Linked DNA regions of Homo sapiens. The protein of the gene in region 4 interacts with the protein of the main gene of each other region in a pairwise test. Each region holds a gene or a part of one and is shown on either strand. Other genes may lie near its edges. The genes, in order: FXR1, HSF2BP, PIH1D2 and TCEA2.

Region 1 (8,752 bases), on a different chromosome or scaffold from region 4:
GGACTGTCTACATAGTTAACAGATTATATAAAGGGCTCCTTATCAGGGCAAGGAAAAAAAAAAGCCTCACTAAATGAAGGCACTACAATACAGTGGTTTCACTGTAAGGTCTCAGATCCCACTACTTACTGTGTATAACAAGAGAGGATCCAAGACAGTAATGTAAGGAAAATAAGATCCCTAACTGGCCTTATTTGCCAAAAAGCAAATCACAATGTTCCCTTCTCGAGATCTCTGTATGGTATTCCCAGGACACCCCAGACTCTTTGGAGTAATTCTCAGGAGGGTCTATCAATCTGGAATGGGATCCAGCCCTCCAGGATGCTGAGCATCAACCTCTCATCCCAATCCTAGAAGTGAGGGAGATACAGCTAAGGAGAGACACACATGCAAGAAAAACAACTTTCAAACAGAGATGATTAATACATGGCACTAGCATAACTGCCTATACATACAAATATGCAAAAATATTAACGTACTATTTAAATGTAAAAATAAAACTCCAAAGTAACCTAAGAAATTGTATGTATAATCTGGGCACAGACTGTCTTAACCAGGACTGGAAACCCAGAAGCCTTAATGGAAAAAAAAAATTATGTTAAAAACTAAAATCTCACTATGACCAGCAATATAAGAAAAGAAGTTAAAAGGATGGGGAGGCAGGGCACAGTGTGGCTCACACCTGTAATCCCAGCACTTTGGGAGGCCGAGGCAGGAAGATCACTTGAGTCCAGGAGTTGGAGGCCAGCCTGGGCAACATAACAAGACCTATCTCTACAGAAAATTTTTTTAAATTAGCTGGGCATGGTGGCACATGTCTGTAGTCTCAGATACTCCAGAGGCTGAGGCAGGAGGATCGCTTGAACCTGGAAGGTCAAGACTGCAATGAGCCATGATCCTATCACTGCACTGCAACCTGGGTGACACAGTATTATTTATTTTGAGATCCTATCTCAAAATTAATAACCTAAATAAATAGGTGGGAGAGTGGACACTCTTACATCAGGTCAGAGGCTTAATATCCATAATACAGAAAGATTTTCAAAACTGACAAAGGACACCCCAACAAAAAAATGGGCAAAAGACAGGCAATTCTTAGAAAAACAAAATCAAATGGCAAACAAAGGCAAGTCTTAAAAGAACAAGTTCAAATGGCAAACAACATTAAAATTCACAACTGGGATCAAGTTCCAATGAGATATCCCTTTACATCCAACAGACTGGCAAAAATTAAAGATCATAAAGCCAACTTCTGGCCCAGATAAAAAGAAAAAGCTGCCATTTATTATTGATGGAGAACACAGGAAGCATCAGAAGCCTTTTTGGAAAGCAATCTTTCAACATTTATTACAGTTTTTTGTTTTTTTAAAGGTTCCCTTTCACCAAGCTATCCCATTCTTTGATATCTATCCAATGGAAATAGTTATGTGGAGCGACAAAAAACTGAAAACAAAGTGTATGTCTATTAACTGGGGAATGGCTGAATTTAATACATTGTTATGATTATATAACCTTAAAAAATAAATCATACTCCACATGAAAATAGTTAAGATGTGGATGATCCTATTTTTATACAGTAATACTGAAAAACCCTATACTTGTAACTGAATGCGTACCTATATACAATTCTACGAGCATAGTGAAATATATGGAACCACGTATATGTGCTACAAACAAAGGTTACCTAATATGGAGGCGGAGGTGAGAGACCCAGGTGGTGAAGAGCAACCAGGGGAAAAAAAAATACAACAGACTAAGTTTTTATATCATACTTACGTGTGTGTAAAATTATACACGTGTCTATGTAAACGTATACTTTTAAGAATTAGAATATATCTTATTGTCAGCCAACACGTTTTCCATACAGCACGTATGTGCATCACCACTCCCCACTTCTAATTTTTCCATCTCTAGGGATCTCAAATTTATAAGATATAAACTTATAAGATGCTTACCACAACTAAAAGATCTAAGTTGTAATTTGATTCCAACAAGTACCAAATAGTCAAGGCTGCTACTGCAATCAAAAAAATGTCTTAACTTCAAACAATATACTTTTTAAAAAGATCTACGCAACTAAATCTACAAAGTAAAATTATTCCAAATCACTAGATACTTGTTCCACAAATTCAAAAAGTCTGCAAATTTACCAATTACATTATACATTACAATAATTATTACAAGTTTTTTTTTTTTTTTTTAGATGGAGTTTCTGTTGCCCAGGCTGGAGTGCAGTGGCGTGATCTTGGCTCACTGCAACCTCCACACACACCCCCACCCTGGGTTCAAGGGATTCTCCTGCCTCAGCCTCCAGAATAGCTGGGATTACAGGCACCAGCCACCATGCCCTGCTAATTTTTGTGTTTTTAGTGGAGATGGTTTCACCATGTTGGCCGGGCTGGTCTCGAACTCCTGCCCTCAAGTGATCCACCCGCCTCAGCCTCCCAAAGTGCTGGGATTACAGTCAAGAGCCAGCACGCCCAGCCAATTATGGAGTAAGCTCTAATAAGAAAAAAAAATTATTCAAGGCAAGCATTCAGCATTCATTAGTATTGAGCATGTAACTGTTCTGAGTTTGAAAAAAGAAAAAGGACAATGAGGATGTGAAGATTTCTTTAAGAATACACAAGTGTCTACTACTACTGTTTACATACCAGTAATGTTCTTGGCTTGTTAGGTTCACCCATTTGTATGTATTATCTAACAGTTCTCTTTGAAATGGAATAAGTTAACAGTTCCAAATGGCCACCCAAAACTATTCTGGGCCGGGCATGGTGGCTCACACCTGTAATCCTAGCACTTTGGGAGGCTGAGGCAGGCAGATCACCTGAGATCAGGAGCTCAAGGTCAGCCTAGTCAACACGGCAAATCGCCATCTCTACTAAAAATACAAAATTAGCCGGGCGTGGTGGTGCATGGCTGTAATCTCAGCTACAATAATTACTGAGGCACAAGAATCGCCTGAACCTAAGAGGCAGAGGTTGCAGTGAGCCAAGATTGTGCCACTGCACTCCAACCTGGGCAACAGAGCTAGACTCAAAAAAAAAAAAAAAAAAGAACAAAACTATTCTGACTTTCTCGTTGCAGAGTTTAAGTTCTATACAGTTCCCTCTATGCATGCATAAAGTTTTGTGACAATATCTGAACTTGACCAAGATCAAAACATAACTTCTTTAAAAAAATCATTTAAATTCAGTTTGAACCAAAATCAGAAATGATGAAGTTAGCAGTTACTAAGATTACACATCATTCAACAAATATACACTGAGGGCTTACTATGAACTAAGTACATATATCAACAAAATTTAAGACTTGAAAATAACCTGAAAAACTGTAAAAACAAAAAGGTTACATGAAAAGGGAACCAAAAACAGCTACCTATGATTAATTATGTAGATTAAGAAAGGAATTCAGGAGCCTCTGAGGCTCCTGATCTGAAGAAATCTCAACACGGGAGCGCATCCCTTTGCCAACAATAATAAACTTCATCAGCTATTTTACTAATGGAGACCTCTGTTCATCTTCCCAAAATAGACAGCAAAAAACGCTGAAGATAGAGAATGGCAGGCAAGTTAAATACACTGATAGCATAAATTATCTTGATTAAAAGAAGGAGGTAGTGGCTCATGCCTGTAATCCCAGCACTTTGGGAGGCTGAGGCAGGAAGATCATAAGGTCAGCAGTTTGGGACCAGCCTGGCCAATATGGTGAAACCCCATCTCTAATACAAAAATCAGCCGGGCGTGGTGGCTGGCACCTTTAGTCCCAGCTATTCAGGAGGCTGAGACGGGAGAATTGCTTGAACCCGGGAGGCAGAGGTTGCAGTGAGCTGAGATTGCGCCACTGCACTCCAGTCTGGGCAACAGAGCAAGACTCCATCTCAAAATAAAACAAAATGCATGAAAAGAAATAGATAATATTAATTTCAATATTATTTAACCTAATATACCTAAAATATTATCCAACATGTAATCAATGTAAAAAATTATTGGCCCGGCGCAGTGGCTCACGCCTGTAATCCCAGCACTTTGGGAGGCTGAGCCAGGTGGAACATTTGAGGTTAGGAGTTCGAAACCAGCCGGCCAACATGGTGAAACCCTGTCTCTACTAAAAATACAAAAATTGCCTGGGCGTGGAGGCACACAGCTATAATCCCAGCTACTCGGGTGGCTCAGGCATGAGAATCACGTGAACCCAGGAGGCGGAAGTTGCAATGACCCGAGATAGTGCCACTGCACTCCAGCCTGGGCAACAGAGCAAGACTCTGGCTCAAAAAAAAAAAAAACAAAAATAAAAAAAAAATAAAATTTAGGTGTTTCACATTTTTTTTTAATTCTAAGGCTTTGAAACCCAATTTGTATTTTACATTTAAAGCATGTCTCAATTCAGACTAGTACATTTCAGCTCCATGGCTGGTGGCTACTATATTAGAAAGCAGATTTGTCTAAAGCAAAGGCATAGCTCAAATCATTTCTCTGGGAACCTCCCAATTTATTCCTCATAATTCTCCTCATATTAGTAACAATTCAAAATTAGTAATAATGTGGCAAAACATTTGTACTTCAAAAAATATTGCACCATAATGGTTAAAGAAATTGGTTCTGTGGTGTCAAACTTTAGAGTCTGAATCTTGAATCAGCATCTAACTTTACAGACCTGGATTCACTTAGCCTCAGTATTCTCAAATAGTGGAGTTATCTACTTCACTGTGGTTGAAAGGATTAAATGGGAAATTCGAGTAAGGCACCTACAAAGTCTGGTAAGTAGTCTGGGTACTCAATGAAAATTAGTTACAGTTGCTAGAGGTAGATGGGACTGCCATCAACAGAAACTAGCAAAGATTTCACAACTTATAAATAGGTTAAAGGAAATACAACTGCTTCATACTGCATATGAAAAAACCAAGGTGTTTACCTGGATGATCCTGCCAGTTAAAAACTATTACAAGAATTAGGGGTCAATCATGGAATGAATGCATATTGCTCTTCCCACTACAAAAAAGCTAATTTGACAACCTTAAACACTGTGATAGAGAACTTATCCAGAGTGATAATCCAGCAAAGTATCTGCCCTTTTCCTCCTAATGAAAATGTAAGCTCACTATCCTAAAAGTTACTTTGAAAAATCCCTAATGCTGGCCAGACTCAGTGGTTCATGCCTGTAATCCCAGCACTCTGGGAGGCCCAGATGGGAGTATTGCTTGAGACCAGGAGTTTGAGACCAGCCTGATCTAAATAGCAAGACCCCATCTCTACTAAAAAATAAAAATTAAAAAAATAAAACCAACCTCACAGAGTTCTTGGGAAAAGAAAATCAGGAAATACATATAGAAGCTTAATACATAATCTAGTAAAGAACAGGCTCTCATCTTAAACTATTATCTTACAGAAGGCACACAAATATCTGACATAGAAAATAACAGGTACATAAAAGTAAAAATACGGAAAAATAATGTTTTCTGGAAGTATTTAAAGCCAGGGCCTTGACAGTATCTCTCTAGATAGGTAAGATGTGCTTTTCTGCTTTCATATTTTTCGTAATTATGTGTTGCTCTTCTAATACAAAACACAAAACTTTACAAGAAATATATGCATTTAAATTGACTTTTTTTTTTTTTTTTTTTTTTGGAGACAGAGTCTCACTCTGTCACCCAGGCTGGAGTGCAATGGCATGATCTCGGCTCACTGCAACCTCTGCCTCCCCGGTTCAAGCGATTCTCCCACCTCAGCTTCCCAAGTAGCTGGGACTACAGGCGCGTGCCACCACACCTGGCTAATTTTTGTATTTTTAGTAGAGACGGGGTTTCTCTATGTTGGCCAGGCTGGTCTCGAACTCCTGACCTCGTGATCCACGCACCTCAGCCCCACAAAGTGCTGGGATTACAGGCATGAGCCACGGCGCCCGGCCTAAGTTGACTTTTTAATAACTGTGATCACCATCAGCAAGATAGAGTAGAAAATCCCAGCCTTCCTTCCCCTCCACGTTTTGCAACTATCTGTGAATGAAAATAAAAGCTGTTGTGATCATTTATTTTGACATCCAGTTAAATCTTCATTACTTAGCATTTTAATGAAAATTATCTTTTTAAATATGCAAAACAACCATTTTAAATTATCTGGAACTATGTATTTTTAAATTAACAGGGTGGCCTAATATTAAGACAATTATCGTTTTTTCAATTACAAATCTCCACAATGAAACCAACTAACAAGATTCTGTACTAACCTTGAAAAGTCAGCATACCCTCTGAACGCAACTTTTTACTATAATTCTATTGGTCATCATTATTAATATATCTATGCATAATTTAGATTACGCTCAAATTCCACTTAATATTAAATCAAGCTAAACAGGGAATTATAGAAATATAGTACTTTGAGATTTGTTTTGTAGACAGTTACACGGTGGAAGCAGACAGCTCTAAAAGTAATTAACTCTGGCCAGGCGCGGTGGCTCACGCCTGTATTCCCAGCACCTTGGGACGCCGAGGCGGACAGATGGAGGCCATCCTGGAGATCGAGAACATCCTGGCCAACATGGTGAAACTCCGTCTCTACTAAAAATACAAAAAATTAGCTGGGCGTGGTGGTGCGTCCCTGAAATACCAGCTACTCAGGAGGCTGAGGCAGGAGAATCGCTTGAACCACTGAGTCAGAGGTTGCAGCCAGCCAAGATTGCACCACTGCACTCCAGCCTGGTGACAGAGCAAGACTCCGTCTCAAGAAAACAAAAAAATGTAACTCTACCTTCTGCAGAAAGTGACTGAAATCTCAGAGCTTACAGGTTCCCTTCGAACATCATGGAAACTTTCCTATGAGCCAGAAACTGAGTGACTTACTTCCAACTTCTATTTAAAATTATACTCATGGTCGGGCGTGGTGGCTCACACCTGTAATCCCAGCACTTTGGGAGGCCGAGGAGGGCGATCATTTGACGTCAGGAGTTCGAGGCCAGCCTGGCCTACACAGTAAAACCCCGTCTCTACTAAAAATACAAAAATTAGCCGGCCATGTTAGCACATGCCTGTTGTCCCAGCTACCTGGGAGGCTGAGGCAGGAGAATCACTTGAACCTGGGAGGTGGAGGTTGCAGTGAGCCGAGATCGCACCACTGCGCTCCCACCACTGTGCTCCCACCCGGGCAAAAGAGCAAGATTCTGTCTCAAAAAATAAAAATAAAATGAAATTATACTCAGCCCAAGGCCATACAAATTGCAATGCTATTACAAAGACTAATATATATTTATACATCAGTTAAAAAGCACTTTAATGATGCAAATGAGCCGGAGGTTTCTGTGGGGTAATGGAACGTTCTGAAGGAAGACTGTGGCGGTGGTTACACAACTCTGTAAATACACTGTCATTCAACTGTACACTTAAAAAAGGTTGTTTTATAGAATATACATTCTACCTCATTAAAACTTTCTTTTTCAAGACACCTTAAATGTCCAGTAGTATAAAACCTAAGATGCTACTTTAGGTATGAGAAGTACAAAAGTACAAAGCCTATAATGTTATTTTATATAACAGCATAGCCCACCAACAAATGCTTAATTAACATCTTCCCATTCTCTCTCATCCCCGCAGATTTATAGGGCTACGAACATGCACAAATCAAGTTTCTAATATCTCTAACTATAGAGCCACTGTTAAATGCAGAACAATGTATTTAGCATGCCACCATTTGTGTACATACTATTTTTTAAAGGCTACCCTAATTTTAGGTAAAATATTCAGATCTTCAGCGTTTCACTGGTTCCAATTAATTTGTGAAATGAAGTTTCAGTTCTACTACAAAAACTTTAATCAAAGTCTACAGAGTACTGCCTCAAGGCATGATAACTGACTTTGAAACTCATCAATGGCAATTCACACTTACGGCCAAATGTGTGTCTTCTGCCTATACGGGGTAAGAGGAGGGGAAAAAAGGGAAATTCAGATCACCTGTACATTGAAAAACCACCAAAAAAAACCAAAGAAATACACTAAAATGTTAACAGCTCTCATCTCAAGGCAACTTCTAGTTTTTGCTGAGTTCCAAAATTACCTCAGTGACCATGTATTATCTTCTAAATTGGAAAAAAACTAATTAAAATTAAATTGCTTCTACGCTAAATGGAAGCCGGACTCAAAACACTACACAATATAGTGTACGATTCTATATACGTAACGTTCTGAATAAGAAAAACTATGGGGACAGAAAACACTCTAGAAGCTGGGGTTGAGGAATGGTTGACTGAAAAGGGCATGACGGAAATTTGGGGGCTATGAATCTTGATAAATGCTGACACCACCACAGTTAAAGTGACAGTTAATCTTGATAATTGTCAGCATTTATCAAGATTCATAACCGTACACCAAAAAAGGCTTATTTTACTGTATGTAAATTAACATTAACTTTTACATTCTAATGAATAAAAAGCAATAAACTTCTGTGCAATAAGCCAATGGTTTTCAAGTCAGCAGTTTAATAGGATAAAAATATACTGGGGATCACAGAACTACTTCAAGCCCCTCATGTTAGACAGAGAGATTTGTTCAGGGGTCCATTGTTAGATAATGGTAAGGTGAAGTACAGACCTAGAATTCTCATCTGTTTACTTCAAATCCAGGACTCTTTTCCACTCCGCCATTCTCATTCTTCCAGAGTTCTGAAGACCACAGTTTCCACAAAGTGCATATGCAAGTGGATTATGGCTGGACATAAAATTCCAAATGTTCAAGCGTACATGATTTCAGTGCACACACAGGTGG
Region 2 (8,752 bases), on a different chromosome or scaffold from region 4:
TGGCAAAACCCCATCTCTACTAAAAATACAAAAATTAGCCCAGCGTGGTGGTACACGCCCATAGTCCCAGCTACTCGGGAGGCTGAGGTATGAGGACTGCTTGAACCTGGGAGGCGGAAGTTGCAGTGAGCCAAGATCACGCCAGTGCGCTCCAGCCTGGGCGACAGAGCAAGACTTCATCTCAAAAAAAAAAAAAAAAAAAAAAAACTAAAATCAATCTTGCTGAACTCAAATTAATTCTGTTGATTTCCCAAACCAGAGTCAGGGAATTTTGCTTTTCATTCACTGACACACATATATGACATGAACAGCAGAGCGGTCACGGGTGATATTAAAACACCACACACCTCTTCCGCCTCCATCTTGACCACCTTGCCACCTTCTCTGTCCATAAGCTCCCCAAGTGTTTTTTTTCCCTCTACTTTCCTATGTTCTGGACAATCTCCACCCTGATCTGTGCCCCAAGAGGCAGATGTGAAGACCCACAGTAACAAGGCTCCCTCGTCCTATGGCTTCCTGTTGGATGCAATAGCAGCCCCGCAGGAAACTGGAGGACTAGAGAAGATGACCAAGGATGGGACATGTCTCCCCACTCCATCCTCCCTGCTGGGCTTCATCCTCCTGGGTGAGGTCCCAGGTGCTGTCAAGCATCTTGTCTGGAGCAACGCCTCTCGCCACGTCTGGTACCTCTCTCCCTTCTGCTCCTTCAGCCCAGGGGAGGCAATGGCGCTCCACTCGTTAGTTCCCGGATGCTTCTTTCTCCAGGCACTGGTTCCCCCAACCCTGATCACACTTTAATCTCTTCACTTTACTCCGTTTACTCCTTTTGTTCCCTGCCAGGATATGGATGTGACACACTCTTCATGTTCTTTTATCTGGGCCACAATAAACTCCGAGTCAAAGTAATAATCCTTTTTTGGTGCTGACTCTTTGGTTCTACTCTTCATGGATATTTCTCAAGTTCTTATTTCTACAGACTACAAATAATTCTTCCCAGAACTGAAATGGGGGTACCCCGTATCAAACTCTCAGGAAATTAATCTCAAAATATCCTACACTTTAGAAATCACATAGCGCAGTGGTTTTCAAATCCTACTGCTAAGAATCTAAGAGTACCTGGGGAACAACTACAGTCCCATAAACATTCAATTAATATCTCCATTTTACAATGTTATTTACAATTTTTATTTGGAAGTAATTTCAAATTCACAAAAACTAATGCCAAAAAAAATTCCTGTTATCTCTCTTTACCCAGACTTACCTACTATTAACATTTTGTTTGCCTCATTTGCTCATCATTCATTTATTTAATTAAAAAAATTTTTTTGAGATGGAGTTTCCCTCTGTTGCCCAGGCTGGAGTGCAGTGGCATGATCTCAACTCATTGTCACTTCTGCCTCCTGGGCTCAAGCGACTCTCCTGCCTCAGCCTCCCAAGTAGTTGGGATTACAGGTGTGCTGACCGCGCCTGGCCTTTTGTTTGTTTTTCAGTTTGGGGTTTTTTTTATTTTTTTGAAAAAAAATTTTTAAATACAAAAATGAGCCGGGCATGATGGCGCGCACCTGTAGTCCCAGCTATTCGGGAGACTGAGGCAGGAGAATGGCATGAACCAGGAAGGCTGGGGTTGCAGTGAGTCAAGATGATGCCACTGTACTCCAGCCTGGGTGACAGAGGGAGACTCCATCTCAAAAAAAAAGAAAGAAAAATCTGTTGGTCAAATATCTCACCAGCGTATCATGGCTACACTAGTTCGCATTCACTGCTGATATTTTCAATGACCAAAACAAGGCTGGTTCACATTAACATCAAAAAACATATAAACAAATTTTAAAAGGTTAAAATTATTTAACATTTTAATTATTTCAGAAATGAGGCCAACATTTTAGGTGTGCTGTCAACATACAAAAATAATTCCAGCTCCTCTGAGACTGTCAGTGAATATCTGACTGCCACTAAGGTGCCAAATTGTCAAATGCAGCATAATGCATGAAAAGTGTTTTCTGTAAGACAATGAAGATTTAAACAGACTGAATGGCTTTTTTATTATTTCTCTCCAAAATGAACAATTGCCAATCAAGGAAAGCAAAGAATTGCTCGATCTTAGCGATTTAATTGTAAAACAAAAATATCTGACTCCTCTTATTTCAAGCTTCATATCAGTTTAATTAGAAAGTGTCTTCATGTTGCTAGGTGAACTACTTCAAAACCACCATCTGCAACTCCTTATCTGTGGGATTGTGTCTTCTTGCGACTTCACAAGCAAAACTAAAAACAAACTGGATGCTGAAAGTGATCATCCAAGTACCTTCCAAAATCCCTGATACTAAATTTGTGTTTTCATCGCACCACCTTCATTGTACTTACTGATTTTATAAGTCAATGTTCTAAAACTTAATTTTAAAAACAAATACCCAGAAGATACAGTTTTCATCTATTTTACATCTAGAACCATCATATACTATTATATAATTTTTTTTTTGAGACAGAGTCTCGCTCTGTCGCCCGGGCTGGAGTGCAGTGGTGCGATCTCGGCTCACTGCAAGCTCCGCCTCTGGGGTTCACACCATTCTCCTGCCTCAGCCTCCCGAGTAGCTGGGACTACAGGCGCCCGCCACCATGCCCGGCTAATTTTTGTATTTTTAGTAGATACAGGGTTTCGCCATGTTAGCCAGGATGGTCTCGATCTCCTGACCTCGTGATCCGCCCACTTCGGCCTCCCAAAGTGCTGGGATTACAGGCATGAGCCACCGTGCCCGGCCCATAAAATTTTATTTATAAAAAATAGGATTTTCCTAGTTTTAAACAAATTTTTGATACCCACTGATTTATTCACCACTGTTGGATGAATAAAGCACAAGAAGGGATGAAAGAAAACAGAGGGTGATATCTTACTAAGTACTTAAGTGCCACTACCTTAACAAGTCAAATGGAGGTTCCTATAGTGTTTTCAGGCTTGCTTTTTTTTTTTTTTTTTTTTTTTGAGATGGAGTCTCACTTTGTCACCCAGTTTGGAGTGCAGTGGCATGATCTGAGCTCACTGCAACCTCTGCTTCCTGGGTTCAAGCGATTCTCCTGTCTCAGCCTCCTGAGTAGCCAGGATTACAGGTACATGCCATCACACCCGGCTAATTTTTGTATTTTTAGTAGAGATGGGGTTTCACCTTGTCGGCCAGTCTGGTCTCGAACTCCTGACCTCAAGTGATCTGCCAGCCTTGGCTTCCCAAAGTGTTGGGATTACAGGCGTGAGCCACCGCACCCGGCCCGGTTTACATCTCTTGCAAACATAGCTGAGTCTTACTCGAACCTCCCTAAACTTTTCCCAAACTCATGAAGTGACAATGGCCGAGCCAGAAGCTAAGCTGCTGGGCTGTGAATTGGAGTCTCTCTTCATTTCCCCAAGGGTTCACATAGTTTCCCACACCATCTGAGGAGGTGTTATTTACCAGGGACTCCTATGAGCCAGTCACAGTGGCACACACCTTACAGAGCTTATCTCATTTTAAGCTTTGCCATAGCCTATGAGGTAAGCATTACTGTCCACATTTTGTAGACACTAATCAGCAGGCAGTATATAGATGATCCTGTATCTCCATACTCTCACTGCCGATCATAAATCATGACACTTTGTCCTGACTTAACCACCAAGACTAATCAAACGTCCCTTCCATTCCATCCATACAGCCACAGTCCCACACACTAATGGAACTCACGACCTTCCTTGATGAATGCTCTAATTCATCTTCCACCCAATTCTTCAAACCTATCCTACACTCACCTATAAAAACCATTCTCCTAAAAAACGTCATTTTGATCACTATTTTGATGGTTATTTCCATGTGGTAATTTCCAGTTGACTCTCATCTCAAATTAAAAACAATCTATGATTGTCTTCCATAAACTGTTCATTTTCCATCCCTAATTCTGCTATACCCCCAATCCTTATTCCATACAGCAATCAAACACTAGCTGATGAACCTGCAATCGGTCCTGCTCAATCCCATGTGTGACTTTCACATGCCACCGCCCTGGCCTAGAATATCTCCCCTTCTCCTCCTAACAAATCATGCCTCTCCCCAGTACCCATCAACTCCCTAAGACTCTCAGGCAACACCTTCGTCAGTATTATTGCAAACTGCCATTTACCTTGCCCAGTCCTCCCAAAGGGAGATGCTGGGCTAGAGTCAAAATCAAGCCCCATTCGCTACTTGATGTGTCACCTCAATCCTCTAGCTGGCTTACAAGTTACTGTATAGCCCAAGCCCATCCAAACAAAACTATATCCACACTCTAAAAGAAACTTCTCAAATCAGGTCTACTCCTTCCCTGCCTGTATTCATTCCTACCTTCAGGTTGCCTTTAGTCACTGCTTAAGATTGGAAGCACATGGTGACTCATGCCTGTAATTCCAGCACTTTGGGAGGCCAAGGCGGGCAGATCACTTGAGGTCAGGAGATCGAGACCAGCGTGGCCAATATGGTGAAATCCTGCCTCTACTAAAAATACAAAAATTAGCCAGGCGTGATGGCAGGCGCCTGTATTCCCAGCTACTCTGGAGGCTGAGGCAGGAGAATAGCTTGAACCCGGGAGGCAGAGGTTGCAGTGAGCTGAGATCACACCACTGCACTCCAGCCTGGGAGACAGAGCCAGACACCATCAAAAAAAAAAAAAAAAAAAACAACTGGAAGTGCACATTAACCTCTAGAAGCAAAAGGAGTGGATACTGGACAATAGGGCTAGTGGGAGAGTAGAAGAATCAGTATGTCAAACGGCTCTTGCTGCCACAGTACAATCGTGAATTTCCTCTGTAGAGCTCTATTCTTAGAGTCATGTCTAGCATGATTAGTCTAGGAAGACAGGCTCGTGGGAAGGCTTGGGGAGGGCCATCAGATCTAGGCCTTATAAAAAGAAGAATTTTTATTTTTCTTGATGTTGGCTAAATGGTAAAAACTCAAAAGCCAAAATTAGATAAAAGATGCCTTAGGAGGCCACAGTAAACCTCCTGGAACCAGCCCAGCCCAATCTGATCCTTCCTTTCTGTTAACACCACGTTTCCTGGAGCACATGTGAGTTTCATGAGATAGGACTGCAAACTAGAAAGAAGGGCATCAGGCCAGGCGCAGTGGCTCATAACTGTAATCCAGTGCTTTGGGAGGCCGAGGCGGGCAGATCACCTGAGGTCAGGAGTTCAAGACTAGTCTGGCCAACGTGGTGAAACCTGGTCTCTAACTAAAAATACAAAAATTAGCTGGCGTGGTGGCACACACCTGTAATCCCAGCTACTCGGGAGACTGAGGCAAGAGAATCGCTTGAACCCAGGGGGCAGAGGTTGCAGGGTTGCAGTGAGCTGAGATCATGCCACTGCACTCAAGCCTGGGCAACAGAGTGAGACTCGGAAGAAAGAGAGAAAGAGAGACACAGAGAGAGAGAGAGAGAGAAAAGGGAAAGGAAGGGAAGGGGAAGGGAAGGGAAGGGGAAGGGAAGGGAAGGGGAAGGGAAGGGGAGGGGAGGGGAGGGAAGGGAAGGGAGAAGGAAGGAAGAGAGAGAGAGAAAGAAAGAAGGGCATGCAGAGACAGTAGGGTGCTCCCTCAAGACCGAATAATCAGCCAGGGAGATAATGACAGACAAAATCAGGGGCCGAGATAATGACAGATAAAATCAGGGGCCCTGCACTCCCAACAGCTTATAAAGTAAAATGGAAATAAAACCATGTGTCTGAAGGAAGCATAGGGTACCATGACAACATTTCAAAGGAAGATTGATCATGTCGAGGTAGTCAGATTAGGCAGTGACTCTGAGCCGGGGCTGTGCCCAATAATATAAAGCCTTTTAAGCCGTAGTATGGTTTTGCTTAGGTTTTTGGATGATAATGAGTCTGGGTGGGGTTTTTAGGTTTTTGCTCTTTATCCTAAAAACAAAGAGAAGCGTCTGAAGACTTACGCAGGTGAATGGCATCATCAGATTGAACTGCCACAAACTACTCAGGCTACAGTGTGTCTGAGGGACTGGAGAGTGGCAGTGAGGAGACCGCCAGGAGGAGGCAGAACACAGCAGTGGAGACAGACGCAGGCTGATGATTCAGGATGCATCCATGAAGTAACACTCACAAGACTTACTAGCGGACAGGTTTCATGCGGAGTAGTGAGGAAGAGAGACAGGTAACAAGGAAGACTCCTGGGTCTCTAGTCTGGGTGTTGGTGCTCTGGGGAGACTGAGGCAGGCCAGTGTAAGACAGGGGCAGGGAACAGATAGCATGAGGCAGATATGACAACAGGAAGTAAAAATCAGCTTGCACCGAGAAAGCAAAAGTCTGTCCTGACTTCTGTCAGGCTGGAATAACAAACACAGATAAAGTCAGGTGCCAAGTTAACAGAAAATATCTCTCAAAGACAATGCAACTGTAAAGTGTCATAATGACCTCTTCTTTGAGTGACTGCTAACTTCTTATTCACTGAGAAGCCTTATTCTGTAAAATCCCAGACTCGCACAAATTTTGTTCTTTGAAATTATACAAGTAAGAAGATCCCACTCTTGCCTGCAGGATCTAAGTCACTGTGACACAGAAAAGAACCCTATTTCCAGCTACTGCAGAGCTTCAAGTAAGGGATTTCTAGAACAATGTTCCACGTCTATTTGAACGTTGTAGTTTTCAAGGAAACGGGACCTGGGTCCGCTTCGCAGTCAGACTTAATATTGGTCCCTTTAGACACAGTTCTATTTTGCTTCATTTATGCTTCACCTAATACCACTCTGTCTCCAAGTCCTACAACAACTCTATCCTCTTTTTTGTTGACATGCCCCACAGTTTCTCGGTGTTCTGGTATGGTCTTCCTCACTGCAAAGAGCCATAAACCTCACTCTGTCAGACTGTGGGTCTGTTCCTGGCGACCTTAGACTGATTAGGCTAGGGCAGACATTTAGAATTTGAAATAATCATGAAACAAGCAGGAAGAAATGCCAAGTCGGAGTCAGGCACAAGGCCGTGAGCTTGGAGAGTTCTGGGCTAGAGAGTAAATCCAGCAGCCACTGGCATCAAGACGGTAACTGAAGCTGTGAGTGTGCATGAGACTGCCTAGGGAGAAGCCATGGGGTGAGGCAATGAGCGGGGCCTAGGCCTGAGTCTCAAGCCCTATTGGAAGGCTGCAAAGCAGAGAAGGATAAATTTCAGCAAAGGGGAATAAGCAGGAATTGCCAGAGAGACTATGGGGAAAAAGGTGACTCTATAGCCTGGGAAAGGCCGGGACTATGAGATAAGATCTCCCAAAGGCAGACTGTGATCAAGTGACCACAGATTTGTTTGTGGCCCTCACTCGGTTTGATTTTGGCAGCGGGACTGATCACTAAAGACACTCATGTTAACTAACTCATGAGACCCTGATGTATTTTTTAGAATGCCAGTTTATTAATTTACAGTGAGAATATAACCAACCAGCAGGCTGCCATACGCTGCTACTGGTGTATGCCTATTTACCTTCCTTTCCTGAAGATAAATGCACAAGGAATGACTAATCTCAGAAAGTTGCTGGATGAGCATGAAATCAAAACTAGAGAAATTAGAAGTCAATGACCTGGCATTCTGGCAACCAATGACACGCCATGTATCTGGCAGAGTCCCAGTGGGAAAGAGAAATCAACCCAGATGTTGAGACTTTTCTGAAGGGACCACTTACAGAGGGGAGAGCAGAGATAACAGAACCACCAAGGGACAGCGAGGTACCCAGGGACTAGCAACAGCCCTACAGCCACAGGAGCAGGGGCAGTCCAGCAAGAGCTAGGACTACGGAAGAGGCCTCTAGACAGGAGTCTCTGTTGTGGAGGGATGCAGCTACTGCCACAAAACAGCAGCAAAGCAGGGAGGGAGCAGGAAGAAACACCCCAACCTCTCTCTCCACCCAGCAATGCCTTCCATTGGTGAGCCCCACTGGCAGCCAGCAAGGGAACCAGGAGAGCCCCATCTGTAGGGATCTACCTCCCAGAGCACACCACAGGGCAGAGAAGACTGGATCCAAGGACTTCGGAGAGAATATAAACAGGACAAGGTACGGTGGATGAGAACTGTCCCTTCTAACTGGATGTGGCTGGCCCACTGACCAGATACGTTTGCACATGCCAGAAACTCATATTCTCGGGGTGAGCTATCTTCTTGTCTGGACAAGTGCTACAGCTACCTGGGCCCCCTGGATGCACCTTTTCTAGAGGGCACACAGGGAGGGATAACAACCAAATGTCATGCAGTAAATTGGCCTTTACCGTCAAAGGCTGATTTAATCATGATTTGGCCTCAATCAAGCAAGTGCTGAGACAATCTCAGAGTATGTCCAGGAACTTCAATAGGCTCCTAAACTGGTATTCAACATAACAGCTCAGCTCAAATCTCAAAAGTCTGAATGGACACCAGAAAGCCTAAACTTCAATCAGTTCTAGATACTGGCTCACCCATCCACCTAAAGATAAGTGAACACACTTCCAGCTATCTCTACTGACAAGTAAACTCCATGCAAGGTTTCCATTTGGCAAGATCCTTAACTTACACAGTAAGTACTTAATTTTCAGAATAGAGCTTTTCAGTTATCAAAAGTATAAAATTCTTCTGCCAATGAAGAGAGAGAGAAAGAGAAGCTGTTAATAGATGCTCAGAAAACTGGCAACCAACTTATACCAACTTACATATGTCCAAGTCACTACACTGAGGAAACCTCCCTTTCTTAGGTCATCAGACTCTCCCAAATATCATCACAAGGACTGTAAGAGTACC
Region 3 (5,472 bases), on a different chromosome or scaffold from region 4:
TCCCAGCACTTTGCGAGGCTGAGGCAGATGGATCACTTGAGGTCAGGAGTTCAAGACCAGCCTGGCCAACATGGTGAAACCCTTTCTCTACTAAAAATGCAAAAACTAGCCAGGCGTGGTGGCACATGCCTGTGATCCCAGCTACTAAGGAGGATGAGACGGGAGGATCGCTTGAACCTGGGAGGCGAAGGTTGCAGTGAGCCGAGATTGTGCCACTGCACTCCAGCCTGGGCAACACAGCGAGACTCAGTCTCAGTGAAGTACAGAGGTTAAATAGGCTTGAATATTATATTTGACCCTGTATTTTTATTGTTGGAGGAGACTCACTGATATGGCCCATCCTGATAATAAAAAACTTCTTGCACAGTCTGGAATTTCTTCCTGATAGAAAAATTTACTAGAGACTTTTTCAAGCAGTAAACCAAGAGTTCTCACTTGTTACTTGGAAACAATTAGAATTTTCCCAAATTATAAGTTACTTAAGATATTTTTAAAACAAGTGTGTCATAGCAATAGTTTTTAATTCTGGTTGATGTTTATTTGAGAAGAAGTGAGTTAAAAAATATAAGACATGGCCAGGCATGGTGTCTCATGCCTGTAATCCCAGCACTTTGGGAGGCCGAGGCAGGTGGATCACCTGAGGTCAGGAGTCCAAGACCAGCCTAGTCAACATGGTGAAACCCCGTCTCTACTAAAAATACAAAAAAATAGCTGGGCGTGGTGGTGCATGCCTGTAATCCCAGCTACTCGGGAGGCTGAGGCAGAATCGCTTGAGCCCATGAGGCGGAGGTTGCAGTGAGCTGAGATCGTGCCACTGCACTCCAGCCTGGGCAACAAGAGCGAAACTCCGTCTCAAAAAAAAAAAAAAAAAAAAAAAATATATATATATATATATATATATATATTTGACATAACAGGTGAAGAGAAAATCTCAGTCAAAATGAACTTAGAAAATAATGGAATTGGTGTTTAAGATAAACTACTACCTCTTTAGCCAAAATGAAGGTCCTTTAATTCACATGACTTTAGCACTGAAAACCCAAAACATATGATGCTCTTCTTTCACACCAAAGGCATTGTGATGATTAGCGTGGATTTTTCTTTGATAAATTTTGCTGTGGTCATTTCAGTATCAATAAGTTTTGGAAGATTCAGATGTAATCTGTACTTCTCAGATACTTCAATCAATAAATCATCCTAAGAATAATAAACCAAGAGATTTATTTCCTGCTTAAAATTTGGGATACTAACTTATTGTTCCCAGTTATTCACTCCTTTGCCATAAAAAGATCCCATTTGTTGCCATGTGACTTGGAATGAGCAAAAAATTACTGTTGTAAATCCCTTAGATTTTAAGGTGGTTACTGCTGCTCACTACATCACACGTTAACTGATACAGTACCACAGTAGAGTGTTGCCATCCTAAATTATGTGGCTGACCAGCAAACAGCAAGGAAACTTATTGGAGCCTGGAAAGGTAGTGATCCATGTTTCATAATGATGAAGCCTTTAGTGAAACTATCACAGTAATTTGGATGATAAATACTCTGTGCCTAGTTGATTTGTGGCTTTAGGTGAAGAAGTGGGAAAATAGATGGTAATGTGTTGGTTCTGTTCACTACATTTAACAGGATATTACAAGAAAGATGAGCTTAGAATGGACCATTTTGCAAGTCAAATTAAAAGGGAATTGGCTGAGTGCGGTGGCTCACACCTGTAATCCCAGCACTTTGGGAGGCTGAGGGCAGGTGGATCACTTGAGGCCAGGAGTTCGAGACCAACATGGGCAACATGGCAAAACCCCGTCTCTACTAAAAATACAAAAATTAGCCAGGCTTGGTGGCACATGCCTGTAATCCCAGCTACTCAGGAGGCTGAGGCAGGAGAATCGCTTTAACCTGGGAGGCAGAGGTTGCAGTAAGCTGAGATGGTGCCACTGCACTCCAGCCTGGGCAATAGAGTGAGACTGTCTCAAAATAAATAAATAAATAAAAAGGACTTTATAGAGCCCCAAGATTCCAAGACTCAATGACTGAAAAGTGGAACTAATTTTTATTTTCAGCAAGTAAGGGATAAAATTGAGAAATTACTTTTATCAACCAAGCTGATTAAGGCAATATAGAGGCAAAGATTAAATCTTTATGCTCTTTGTTAAAACCTCTGAATTTTTTTTGTTTTTTTTTTTTTTTGTTTTTTTTTTTTTGAGGGGAGACAGAGTCTCGCTCTGTTGCCCAGGCTGGAGTGCAGTGGCTCGATCTTGGCTCACTGCAACTTCCGCCTCCCGGGTTCAAGCAGTTCTCCTGCCTCAGCCTCCTGAATAGCTGGGACTACAGGTGCCCACCACCACGCCCGGCTGATGTTTTTTTTGTATTTTAGTAGAGATAGGGTTTCACCATGTTGCCCAGGCTGGTCTCGAACCCCTGAGCTCAGGCAATCCACCCCCCTTCGGCCTCCCAAAATCCTAGGATTACAGGCATGAGTCACCGTACCCAGCCAAAACCTCTGACTGTACTAAGGTGGACTTCAGTAAATCCTTACATTTGGCTAAAATGACAGCAATTAAGTCTAAAGAGACAGGTAAGTCTTGAAATATGGGCAATGTCTAAAAAGGAATTATGGGTATCACTGACTGGAATCAAAATGCTACCAGCCTGGACTAAAAGAAACTGCCTTCAAAATTTAAAACAATCCTTTGAGCCCCAAGATTCCATGAGCAGGAACCAGGCTGAAGAGGCTACTTAGCATATAAGAATGGCACATTCTCCGATACTCTTCAGATGTGGCCAAGGTGGATAGTGGGAAAGGGAAAAAAAAAGAAAACATCTTCCTGAAGACTGAAGCTAAAGGTCGTGGAAAAAAATGGAACTGGGGAGCTAGGTAATTACAGAACTTTCTCAAGGAACCTAAGTAAGAACATCCTCTACCTCCAGAAAAGGAGCCCTCACAATGTCTGCCTACTAGGATTTCAGAATTGCTGTGCACCAGTAACTGCAGTGTGCCTCTTATTTTTCCCATTTCTGAATTGAGATGGTTAATTACGGTTATCTTCTCCCCATTCCACATTGCATGACAGATGGGACTGAGGGAGTACATAACTTTTTTTACATGTCTTAGTCCATGGTTCAAGAGGAAGAGAAAGCAAAATTCTGTCCTTTGGAGTCTGATACTGGGATTGGAGGTGTTTTCCTTCCAGAAAGAAGCAAATATTTGCAACCAAGAGTGTAGACTGGTAGACTGTAGGACTGACTCTAACTATTTGCTCTTCTGTAAGAGGATAGTACGTTTACCCTGCCATATGACTTCCTGTGACTGTGAGAATACACTTCTCAGTCCTACTGATGTAGAACTGGCCTTGTGACTTACTTTGGCCAGTGGAGCGTGAGTAGAAGTGATATCATGAAGTGTCATGTCTGAGTAGAAGTATTACGATCCACTGCATGGTTTGATCATTCTATTTTCCCTTTGCTGAGATGTGAATGGCACATCTCAGAAGGGAATTGCTCCTTCACCGGGTAACCTGAGCAAATCATTGTAAGCCCCTGAAATTATGTAGTTTGTTACTGTGGCATAATATATGTTAGTGAATGCTGGCCAATACAAATTTACAGTGTTATCTATTCAACTTACCTCAGAAACACTAAGGTCACAGAGAGAGACAGAATTAATACCAGGTAATTCAACTTTCAACTCAATTTTCAGAGGTTTCTCACTGTGATCATGCACAATTTTTAGTTCATAGGCTGGCATCTTCATCTCCACCTGGATTTCAGTACTGGAAATCTCTTCTATCAGACACACTGCTTTGCCTGAAACTTGGTCTTTTGGCAGTAACAGTTGAGGAAAGTGATCTGGATTGCTCATAGTACTGCTTCGTATCTGTCCAAGAGTTAGTTCTTTATGAAAAAAAGGGTGGAGGGGAGATAAAAAATAAATCTACAACATAAAATACTATGAGCTATAATATATGTGGTGTTAGTAGAGATGGTAGATAAAGCTGCAGTTAAATTAGTTTGGGAATCAAGCCAAAAGAATCTTAAACCAAAGAATTTGATTGAAAATTTTTCAGGATTTAAAAATCAAGGATATGATATTTCTAATATTTAATATTTGCATTTTTCTATCTTAAGTTTTTCACCTTTTAAAATAGAGATTTCTAGTTTGCAAAATGTATACAGGATCCAAAAACATCTTAAAGCAGTTTAATTTTCCATTTACAATCATCAACTTACCCCTTCTCATTTTTTCTCTTAAATCTATGGAATCAGTTTGGATTCCCATCAGATTTTGTTTCATTCTTTGAATGCTTCCTTTTATTCTAAATTTGGTAATATGGTAAGAGTGTGAGAGGGTGAACTGGAATTTCTCCTCAATGCATTTCATGGCCATCTGAATTAACTGATTTTTTTTCACTTGGTCCTTTTCTGCTGCATGAAGAACATCAGGATTGTAGGCAACATCAATGACTGTGTAAGCATCTGTGTGTGTAATTGAAAGGGTATGAAATGAAGAAAAATTGTTGCACTAATGATACTGTCAGGCAATATATTAAACCATATTCCTGATAAAGCTAGAGAATATTCCTGTATTTTTCAGAGGTAATCACAGTAGTGCTACAGCAATTATGACATTTCTTGGCACTTTTGCATGGATTAAAACAGCTCACCTTATTACAAAAGTTAAACAGTATTAAATTTGCATAAAGATACACTAATTGTAATTATATTATCAACAAATAAAGAGTTTTACTTGAAATGCTCTCAACCAAGTAAGATCTTGTCCATTCCTAATAAAATTTTTACAATGTGCTTTCTCTCAATTATTTGTACCTGATATCTCAGTTGTATCTTCTGGTTTGCCAACAGTTAGAGGTACTGGATGAGTGGTTGATTGGGGAGCTGGGATCCTTGTCCACTGACACAGGTTGATAAAAAGTATTTTTTCTTTTGGTTTCTGGAAAGCAAATAATTTTGCACATCTCAAAACCTAGTTTAAAACCATTTAAGGCCAGGCATGGTGGCTCCCGCCTGTAATCCGAGCACTTTGGGGGTCCAAGGCGGCCGGATCACCTGAGGTCAGGAATTTGAGACCAGCCTGGCCAACATGGTGAAACTCCGTTTCTACTAAAAATACAAAAATTAGCCAGGTGTGGTGGTGGATACCTGTAATCCCAGCTACTCGGGAGGCTGAGGCAGGAGAATCGCTTGAACCCAGGAGGCGGAGGTTGCAGTGAGCCAAGATTGTGCCATTGCACTCCTGCCCGGGTGACGAGAGTGAAACTCCATCTCAAAAAAAACAAAAACAAAAACATTTAAAAAATAATATCCTAAAAGCCACTCACCACAGGAATGAAAGAATTTTAGGCTCCAAGTAAGTCATTTCATGTATTAAAACTGCGTTTGATTATACTGTTGTTATTTGATTTCCCCAAGGCTGCTGGCTTTTAATTAGGAATCCAGACTGGGGTGGTGGCTC
Region 4 (8,402 bases):
CCCGTGTGCGGGAGGGCATCAACAAGAAGATGCAGGAGCCGTCCGCACACACGTTCGACGACGCGCAGCTGCAGATCTACACGCTCATGCACCGGGACTCCTACCCCCGCTTCCTCAGCTCTCCCACCTACCGTGCCCTGCTGCTGCAGGGGCCATCACAGTCCTCCTCCGAGGCCTAGGCCGCCCCCAGCAGCACAGACCCCGCCGCCTCCTACGGCCGACTCTGGGTTCCCTTCAGGTGTTGTTGTCGGCAGGGCTGTCAGGGCACATGCCTGGCCGGCTGGGGTCCCCACCCGCGGAGACGGTCCTAGACCCAGTGGGGAGTGCTGTGTCTCCTGGGTCTGCCCACCCGTGGCCAAGCAGGAACTCCAGGTGCAGGGCGGGCCTCCAGGTGCAGGGCGGGCCAGAAGCCCCCTCATCGGCCCGCAGCTGGCTGGCCCAGTGCTCCTGGCTGGGGGCTCTTGCGTGGTGAGAGTAGGGGTCCCCCCAGGAGCCATGCTGGACCCATGAGCCTCGCTGGGGCCTCCTCCCCAGGCAGCCAATGGGCCCCAGACAAGCCTTTGGTGGGGAACAGAACCTCCGCATCGTGTAGTTTTGTGACATAAGGAGACCTCCTACTTGAGCTGTCTGTACCCCAGAATCAAACACAGAACCTCAGAACCAGATTTAGGACCTCAGAATCCTGCACTCAAGGTGGCAGGACCCAATTTCTGTTTTATATGTTCATGAACTTTAAACCTGGAAACATGTCCTTACTAGGTGTTTTATCAAAAAAAAGTTTTCATATTTATCTCTATCCCTAACCCCCCAAAAATAGGATGTCTTATTATTGAAGATATTTTTAAAGCAAAGTCTCTACTCATTTTTGTCCAAGTCTGGGGAGAGACTGGAGAATGAGTGGCCCCAGACTCAGGGCTGGGGAGAAGTGTCCTTGTCCCAGGGCAGGGGCTCCAGTGCCCCTTGGAGGGGACACACAGCCGTGTGCTTGCCCTCTTCCCATGCCCTGGCCTCCACCAGACCCCTCCTCAGAACAGTGGTCCCAGTGGGTGGCTGTGCTTAACCCTGCCCGGGGCATGAGCTCCACGCCCTCGGCCTCAGCCTCCTTAGCTGAAAGTCGGGCCAGAACAGTGACCCACAGCACCTCAGAAGTCGAGAGGCAACAGGAGGTGCCGCCCAGGCCCAGCCGGACGGGGTCCCCAGAGGCAGGCTGGCTGGGGCAGGAGGGGCCACTTGGTGCCAGGCCCAATGTCATCTTTCTCATCTCACAGGCCCCATGAGTTGAGTGCTCACCAGCCCATCCCCTGCATTTCTGGGAAGTTAAGTGAGTTGAAGCTGAAATTGGCTCAGGGCCCTGAGACCACAACTCCCACAAGAACAGAGAAGGCAGCATGGGGACAAGCTGTCCTGAAGTGCCGAGAGGTCCCGAGCTGCCCATGCCTGAGGCGTTGGGGAGGACACTGCCCTGCACAGGACGCACACAAGACCCTCTCCCCACCTGCCCTCACAGGCAGAGCCGCCCCAGGTGATCTCTGAAGGTCAGCCAAGCTCCTCTCCTGGGGCTGACCCACCAGGGCCAAACCCAAGCACTGCCCAACCCCAGGGAGGGGCCTTGTCCACAGCAGTGGAAACGGGTCAAACATGGGGGACAGGGGCCCACCAGGAGTAACGGCTGAGGAGAACAAGATGGCAAAAAGAAACATTTAATAATGAGGGGGAAAGGGCAGAAAGGTGCAATCCAGGCAGGCAGGTTGAGGGCAGGACATGCCGCCTTCTAGGGTCTCCAGAGAAGCTGTGTCAACGGAGGACGTGGGCCGGGGAGGGCCCAAGGCTGCAGCACATCTACACGAGGGGTCAGCAGAACTGCGAGAAAGGGGGTGAGGCCTCCAGCCTTGTGGCCACATGAGATCCCCCAGAGTGGAAGGCCGCACAGGCTCACCCAAGGCTGGGCTCTCCACCCACCATGCCCAAGACTCCCAGGAGGCTGGTTGGGCAGGGCCATCCCCAGTTCACACCACAGACCCCACAGAGGCTGAGACACCCCACCTCCAGAGAATGGAGCTGGGAGGGGCAGCCTGAGCCTGCTCACCCACCTTCCAGCGGTTTCCACACTCGTTGCAGACAACAAAGGTGGTCATGGGCTCATCAGAGCTGCGGGTCTGCACCTGTGAACAGGGCTGGGTGAACCCAGGGTCACCTCCATGCTCCGCTGCAGACGGCATCCCCTCAACATGGGCAGTGCGGGCCTCGCAGCCACTGAGCTCCCACAGGTGACCTGATCCGAGGCCGCCTCGTGACTCCAACCTTCCAAAGCTGAGCCTCCGGGGGAGGGAGACAGAGTTTATCGGGGCAGAGGCCCTTGTGTGAGCCTGAAGCAGCTCACATTGGCTGGGGACCAGGAGGGCCCAGACTTGGCTGAGGGCAAGAGGGTCCCAATGGTGGGGGGAACTAGCAGGGGTCCCCAGTGCCCGCGGCTGCCTTCCGGAAGGCCCAAGGGTGAGCCTCCGGCCACAGGCAGAGCCTGTTCTGACCAGTGGCTGGGAGCAGGAGAGAGGCAGGCTCTGCACCGACCCAGGCCCCATGCAGCCTTCGAGGGGAAGGAAAGGCTGTCCTTGCAGCCCCTCACGAGTCCCATCTGCCAGGTGCAGCGGCCGCCTCGACACACTCCCCTCTTTTTTTTTTTTTTAAAGACGGAGTCTCGCTCTGTCGCCCAGGCTGGAGAGCAGTGGCACGATCTGGACTCACTGCAACCTCTGTCTCCCGGGTTCAAGTGATTCTCCTGCCTCAGCCTCCTGAGTAGCTGGGATTACAGGCATGCGCCACCACGCCCAGCTAATTTTTGTATTTTTAGTAGAGACGGGGTTTCACCATGTTGGTCAGGCTGGTCTCGAACTCCTGACCTCATTATCCGCCTGCCTCGGCCTCCCAAAGTGCTGGGATTACAGATGTGAGCCACTGCACCCAGCCGCACTCCCCTCTTAACAGGGTCCCTGCCATCTCATGGGATCCACAGTCTCCCCAGCACACTCAGTGTCCACCTCCATGGCAGGGACTGAGGGTCCTGCAGTCACTGCCAGGCAGCAGGCAGCACGGCCCTCCCACCAACATCAACACCTCGAGGGCCCTCCGTTCAGGCTGGGCTGGGCCAGGCCAGGCCCTCTGACTTGAGTATCCGCAACAAGTGGGTCCCACCACCCAAGACGCCGCCCCGTGGAGCCCAGAGGTCCTGGGTAGAGGGGAGTGGTCCCTGAAGGTGGCCATCATGCCTTAGCCTACTCAGGGACTGAGAGGCTCGGGAAATTCATGCAGCAGAGGCGGGAATAGGCATGGGCTCCAAGGAGGGGCACCAGATGCCCTGAAGACACCGGGCCCGGGGGAGGGTGCCCAGCGGCCGCTCACCTGTGTGTAGGTGCAGTTCTTTTTCCTGCACTTGCCGCAGGTGAACAGGTCTGTCTGCGTGCCGCCAGTGCGGGCCATCTGGTGCTCTCGGATGGCCTCCTTGGTCATGGCCTTACGGATCTCCTTCAGCTCATCACTGGCCATCTCCTGGAGCACGGGGCCAGTGGCTTAGCCCACCGCTCCGAGGGAGCAGCCCTCCAGCCCCTCCAACAGGGGCTCACCTCTGAGGTCATCACAGCGATCTGCTGGGGTGTTATGGCCCCACACAGCACATTCCGCCGCAGGTCAGGGTTCTTGGCATCCTTCAGGTTGGAGATACGACTCCGTACACGGTTCTTATACTTCATGTCTGTGTTTCCAACGTCCCGGAAGATGCGTGCAAGTGTTTTAAGGACCCACCTGAGGACAACGTCGCTGCCCTCCACCTACCACCTGCCCCGCTGGGGGCCATGTTGGGGTGGGGGCTGGAAAGGTTCTGCCCAGCCACACAGGGGTCGGTCTGCCCACCCACACCTGGTGGAGAGGTGAAGGGCTGCAGGGCCAAGCCTGCCCCAGGCCCATTCCTGACTGAGACCCAGCTTCAGGCTACAGCCCCAGGGGACCTAGGCCCCACAAGCAGACAGAATCAGCCCTTCAGCTGGTCCGGGGGCCCTCCTGAGGTGAGACAGCCTGACCACCCAGGCAGGTGACCACCCAGGCAGGTGACCCCTGGACAGCTGGGCAGTGGCATCCAGCAGCCACCAGAGGGCACCAGGCCAGGCAGCCTCCTGACTCCACCAGAAACCCAGGCCCACAGCCCCTACCCAAAGGATATATTCCTCGATCTGAGCCGACAGGCGCTCGCAGTCCGCACCGATGGCCACGTGGTCATCTGCAAGAGGGAGCCCTGACTAGCTTCCCCCACTGGTTTCTCCACCTGCCACCCCTTCTGCCTGCAAAACACCCTGGCAGCTTAGAGGGCACATCCGGGTCCCTGCAAGAGGCCCACGATCCAGGCACAGGCCCCTAGCCCCTGCCAGGGCCACAGCAATGGGCTGGGGGAGGACAGTCACCCCGCTGGAAGCAGGCCTCTGCGGGCAGGCAGGGGCCCGGGCCACCCTGTGAACCACAGCGGGTGTCAGGAGCCAGGGCCGGCCGCACTCACGGTCCGTCTGCAGGGCAGCGGTCAGCATCTCGCGGCACTTGTTGCGCACGGCATCACAGGTGACAGGCACCGGAGGAAATGTGGTGATCCTCGGAGTCGACGGTGCCCTGGGCAGCTCCGGCCTCTTGCGGCTGCAGAGAGCCAGGGCCAGCTGGGTTCAGACTCAAGGCTGCAGGCACCCCAGCGAGACACTGGTCCTAGAAGCAGCAGGTGCCACAGCATAATCCCCCACCAACCCCTGCTTGTTCTACTCTGCCAGAGTCCAACAGTGGCCTGTGGCCCTGCCTATCTTGAGTCCAGCCCAGATGTCCATGGGGTGTGCCCAGCAGCCAGGAGGGAGAGGGCCATGAGGTCCCCAGTGGGTCAGGGTGTACTCTCCAGGTGGGAACAGGATCCCAGACCCAGCAGTCAGCATCTGGGCAGCATTACCAGTCGATCAGAATGAACCTGGCAGTTCCTGCCACCTCTGGGGTGCCCACCCACTGGGCCGCAACACAAATACTCTGCTGAGGGCAGCTGCAGCTGCTGCCTGGTCAGGGAGAGGGAGAGACCCACAGCTGTCTGGGGGGAGACAAGGCGGGGCCGCCCAAGGCCAGGTTCTGCTGTCACAGACGACACCCCTGGGCACGTACAGAATGGGAGAAGGATGCCCCTCAGGGCTGGACCCCAACATGGGGCTGCCCAACGACCAGGCTGCATCCACCTAGCCCTCCCCTCATCCCCTCTGTGGAAGTTGGCAGAAGCAGGCAGCTTCCTGGAGGAAAATCAACTTGCAAAGGTGTCCCTGAGCTCCTGGTGGCCCAGTCACCACAACCCAGTGTGGTCAAGGGCAAAGCCATCTCTCGGCTATAGCCTGCCACAATAAGCACCCCCAGCTCCCAGCTGCAGGCCACAGAGCCCTTATCACCCCCTGGCAGCAGTGACCACACGTGCACATGCAGGGCAGGAGGGGAGTTGGCCCCCGCCTTTGGTTCTGGGCAGAATTTTGCAGGAAGGAGGGACCGTCGTTGAGTGAGGCTGAGGGGGAAGCCAGAGTGGGCCAGCAAGAACCAGACCCAGCAGGGGGCCTTGGGGGAAGAGGCCAGGGGGCTCCCACAGGCCCACTCAGGGTATACAGCAGCTCTTGGCAGAGGAAGAGGCCAGGATGGCTGGCTGACAGCCAGGTGGACACAGACCCACATCTCAAGTGGTCAGTGCAGGCGGGACACACCACAAGGCTGGTGTCCAGCATGAGGCTGACCGACTCTGTGTGCAGCCTCAAAGCAGTGCCTAGGCACATGGAGACTGGCACCCTTTCTCTGGCAAGGAAACAGGCTGGGAAGCAGAAGTGTGTGCACCTGCCTTCCAGGTGTGCTACCTGGGATCCGGGGCCTCTGAGGCATCCCTCGAGGACGTGGGCAGAGGCATGCCCCTCCCCCGCTCCCTGGCTTTGGCATCGGAAGCATCTGCAGGAAAGATCGGGGATGGGCTGATCAAGGGGAGGCAGAGGAGGGAGGGGCACAGACCACCACCAAGGTACAGCCTCAGCCCGACCACCAACACGGCCCCAGCCCCAGCCCCCGCCCCCAGCCCCTCACCCAGCCAGGGGAGCCAGGGGCCAGGAGGCTGCCCAGCCTCTGTGAACAGGTCCTCACCCTCCCCAGCAACCTGTCCATCTCTGCAGTCCTGAGGCTGCCTCCCCAGAACCCTTTCCCGTACAAGCACCCACTCACAAAGGCCACCTCTGGGGCCTCTCTGGGGCCCACCCTCCTGCCTGTCCTGGCCAGAGAGACCAAGCATGTCCCCAAGAAGGCTCTTCCTGAAAGCCCAGAGCCAGGCCCAAGGGCTGGGGACCAGGACATGCTTGTGCCATGCACAGCCTGAGGGCCACACAGGGCTGGAGAGAGACTGTTTCACAAGGGTGTGGACAGAGCTAGGAGGGTTGCCTCCATCCCAGACAGCAGCATCTTTGCAACCCCAGTCACCCCACTGTCTCCAGGAAGAGGCAGCCTTCAGTCCAGCCCAGCCCAGCCCAGCCCTTCCCTTCCCTGGCAGGGGGCTGCCCCTCTGTTCCCTCTGAGTAGCTGAGGTGGCCCTGCCTTCTCCCTCCCGCTTCCCCTCTCCCGGCACTTCCCAGCCTCCTGGCCATGACCTTCCCCTCTGTGTGACCTCCCAACTCACCCCAGTCTCTCAGTGCTGTCAGTTCAAGTCCTGGCCTCAACTCTCTTCTCTCCTTGTTCTACCTGGAACCCTGCCCCCAGCACACACCCTGGCCTCCTAGGCCACACCTCCCAGCCAATGCTGACAGGCACCCACTGATCCACTGCCAGCCCCAAGCTGGGCGCTTCATGGTCTGGGTTTGCCACTGCCCCACTCCCAAGCGACCTGGCTCAGGGTGGACACTGCCAGCACTCTACACTGTGCTGACCAGCAAGAGGCAGCACTTCTGGGACCCCTGCCCCAGCACTCAGTGGGCACCGCCTGAGCCGCACCCAGGAGCTTCTTCCAGGACTTGATGAGAGACTTGGCCAGTGCAATGACCTCCTCATCCGAGCTCTGCTTCCGAAGGGCGTTGACAGACATCCCGACTCGGGTGGACTACGAGGCAAGTGGTCTGGGTTGGGGGAGGCAGGGGCCCACCCTAGGGGTCAGATTCTCCTGGCAGAGCCTTGGTGGCCCCCACAGGACAGGAGCCCGGGACCTCCCAGGGAGGTAGAGGCCTCTCCCAATGGCGACTGTCCCATTTGGAACCCAGGAGCCTCAGCCACGGAGGACAAGATGGGTTATCCTCAGACTCCCCTCCCTGTCCCACTGAGCCCAGAGAAAGGCAGAGACCCTCTCCTCAGGAACAGGCATTTGTGCCAACTAAGGCCTGGTGGGGAGGGTGGGGAAGCCCTGCCAGGTGCCCTCAGAACTGCCATCCCCTGGGCTGCACCCAGGAGCTGTCCTGGACCTGGGGCAGGCAGGGACCTACCTGGAGCAGGTGCAGCGTGATAGGCATGGCCTTCAGCTCCCGCAGCAAATCCATGGCTCCCTCCTGGAAGGAGAAGGAGGACCTTCATAAAGGACTTTAGATCTCAACAGACAATATCACCTCCTTCTGCCTACTGGAGGAGAACACAAGGCAGTGACAATTTGGAGATTCAACCTGGGGTCAAAAAGAAACCAAAATTCCTCTACCTGGAGACACCCAGGGCTCTGCCCACATGTTCCTGCACCACAGCAGGGAACCCTTACTGCTCAGTCAAGAAGGGGAGGGGTTCTGCAGCCTCAAGCATTCCAAGTTGTAACCCACATCCGTGGCAATGACCTCACTGACTTCGTTGTAACCACCTCAGGTCACTGACCCAAACCAGAACAGAAATGCCAGCTCCCCTGGCCAATCATGAGGCTTCAGAGCCACGGCCCCTCCCCAGCAGCCAGGGCCACACCCAGGTGAAACTGCAGCCCCAGGTTCATTCACTCCCCTGTGTCTTGATGCCCTGATGCGCAGGGCAGCCTCTCCCCAAAGCACCCCCCGCCCACCAGCTGTGAAGGGCCAACCCAGGAACATCAGTGTCCCGAGCTGAGGCCAAACTCTCATGAAGGGCCAACCCGGGAACATCAGTGTCCCGAGCTGAGGCCAAACTTTCAAGGGTCCCTCCACTCCAGGCACGGCCACAGCCAACACCTACAAGGCCCACAGCCCCCCTCCTCATCTATCCTCCAGGCCTCTGAGTTGCCCCCAAGCAGGCCAGCACCCCTCGCCTGGACTGTTCCAATGCACCTCGTTCTCTCCGCCTTGTCTCCCCACCCAAGATCTGCGTTTCCTCCAGGTCCTCAACACTGACGAGGCCAGGCACAAACCGGTCACATTTCCACACCAGGCCCGGCAACTCAGTGC

Evidence for each region.
Region 1: the proteins of TCEA2 (region 4) and FXR1 interact in binary tests that used the Homo sapiens proteins (3 or more experiments, as listed by UniProt).
Region 2: the proteins of TCEA2 (region 4) and HSF2BP interact in binary tests that used the Homo sapiens proteins (3 or more experiments, as listed by UniProt).
Region 3: the proteins of TCEA2 (region 4) and PIH1D2 interact in binary tests that used the Homo sapiens proteins (3 or more experiments, as listed by UniProt).

Annotation. Positions count from the first base shown.
Region 1 is NC_000003.12:180,914,822-180,923,573, reverse strand, and holds part of FXR1 (RNA-binding protein FXR1), read right to left. Parts: exon of another isoform or gene 8,579-8,752; intron 1-8,578. UniProt on the Homo sapiens protein: mRNA-binding protein that acts as a regulator of mRNAs translation and/or stability, and which is required for various processes, such as neurogenesis, muscle development and spermatogenesis.
Region 2 is NC_000021.9:43,647,746-43,656,497, forward strand, and holds part of HSF2BP (heat shock factor 2-binding protein), read right to left. Parts: intron 1-8,752. UniProt on the Homo sapiens protein: Meiotic recombination factor component of recombination bridges involved in meiotic double-strand break repair.
Region 3 is NC_000011.10:112,066,809-112,072,280, forward strand, and holds the end of PIH1D2 (PIH1 domain-containing protein 2), read right to left. Parts: intron 4,951-5,472; coding exon 4,827-4,950; intron 4,476-4,826; coding exon 4,230-4,475; intron 3,894-4,229; coding exon 3,628-3,893; coding exon of another isoform or gene 3,619-3,627; intron 1,198-3,618; coding exon 1,063-1,197; 3' UTR 990-1,062; downstream 1-989.
Region 4 is NC_000020.11:64,065,630-64,074,031, reverse strand, and holds the end of TCEA2 (transcription elongation factor A protein 2), read right to left. Parts: intron 7,786-8,402; exon of another isoform or gene 7,700-7,785; intron 7,627-7,699; exon of another isoform or gene 7,557-7,626; coding exon 7,494-7,556; intron 7,118-7,493; coding exon 7,012-7,117; intron 5,986-7,011; coding exon 5,898-5,985; intron 4,672-5,897; coding exon 4,541-4,671; intron 4,268-4,540; coding exon 4,211-4,267; intron 3,773-4,210; coding exon 3,618-3,772; intron 3,544-3,617; coding exon 3,397-3,543; intron 2,163-3,396; coding exon 2,091-2,162; coding exon of another isoform or gene 2,007-2,090; exon of another isoform or gene 1,861-2,006; coding exon 1,852-1,860; 3' UTR 1,685-1,851; downstream 1-1,684. Other genes in the region: RGS19 (regulator of G-protein signaling 19), read left to right, coding at 1-179. UniProt on the Homo sapiens protein: Necessary for efficient RNA polymerase II transcription elongation past template-encoded arresting sites.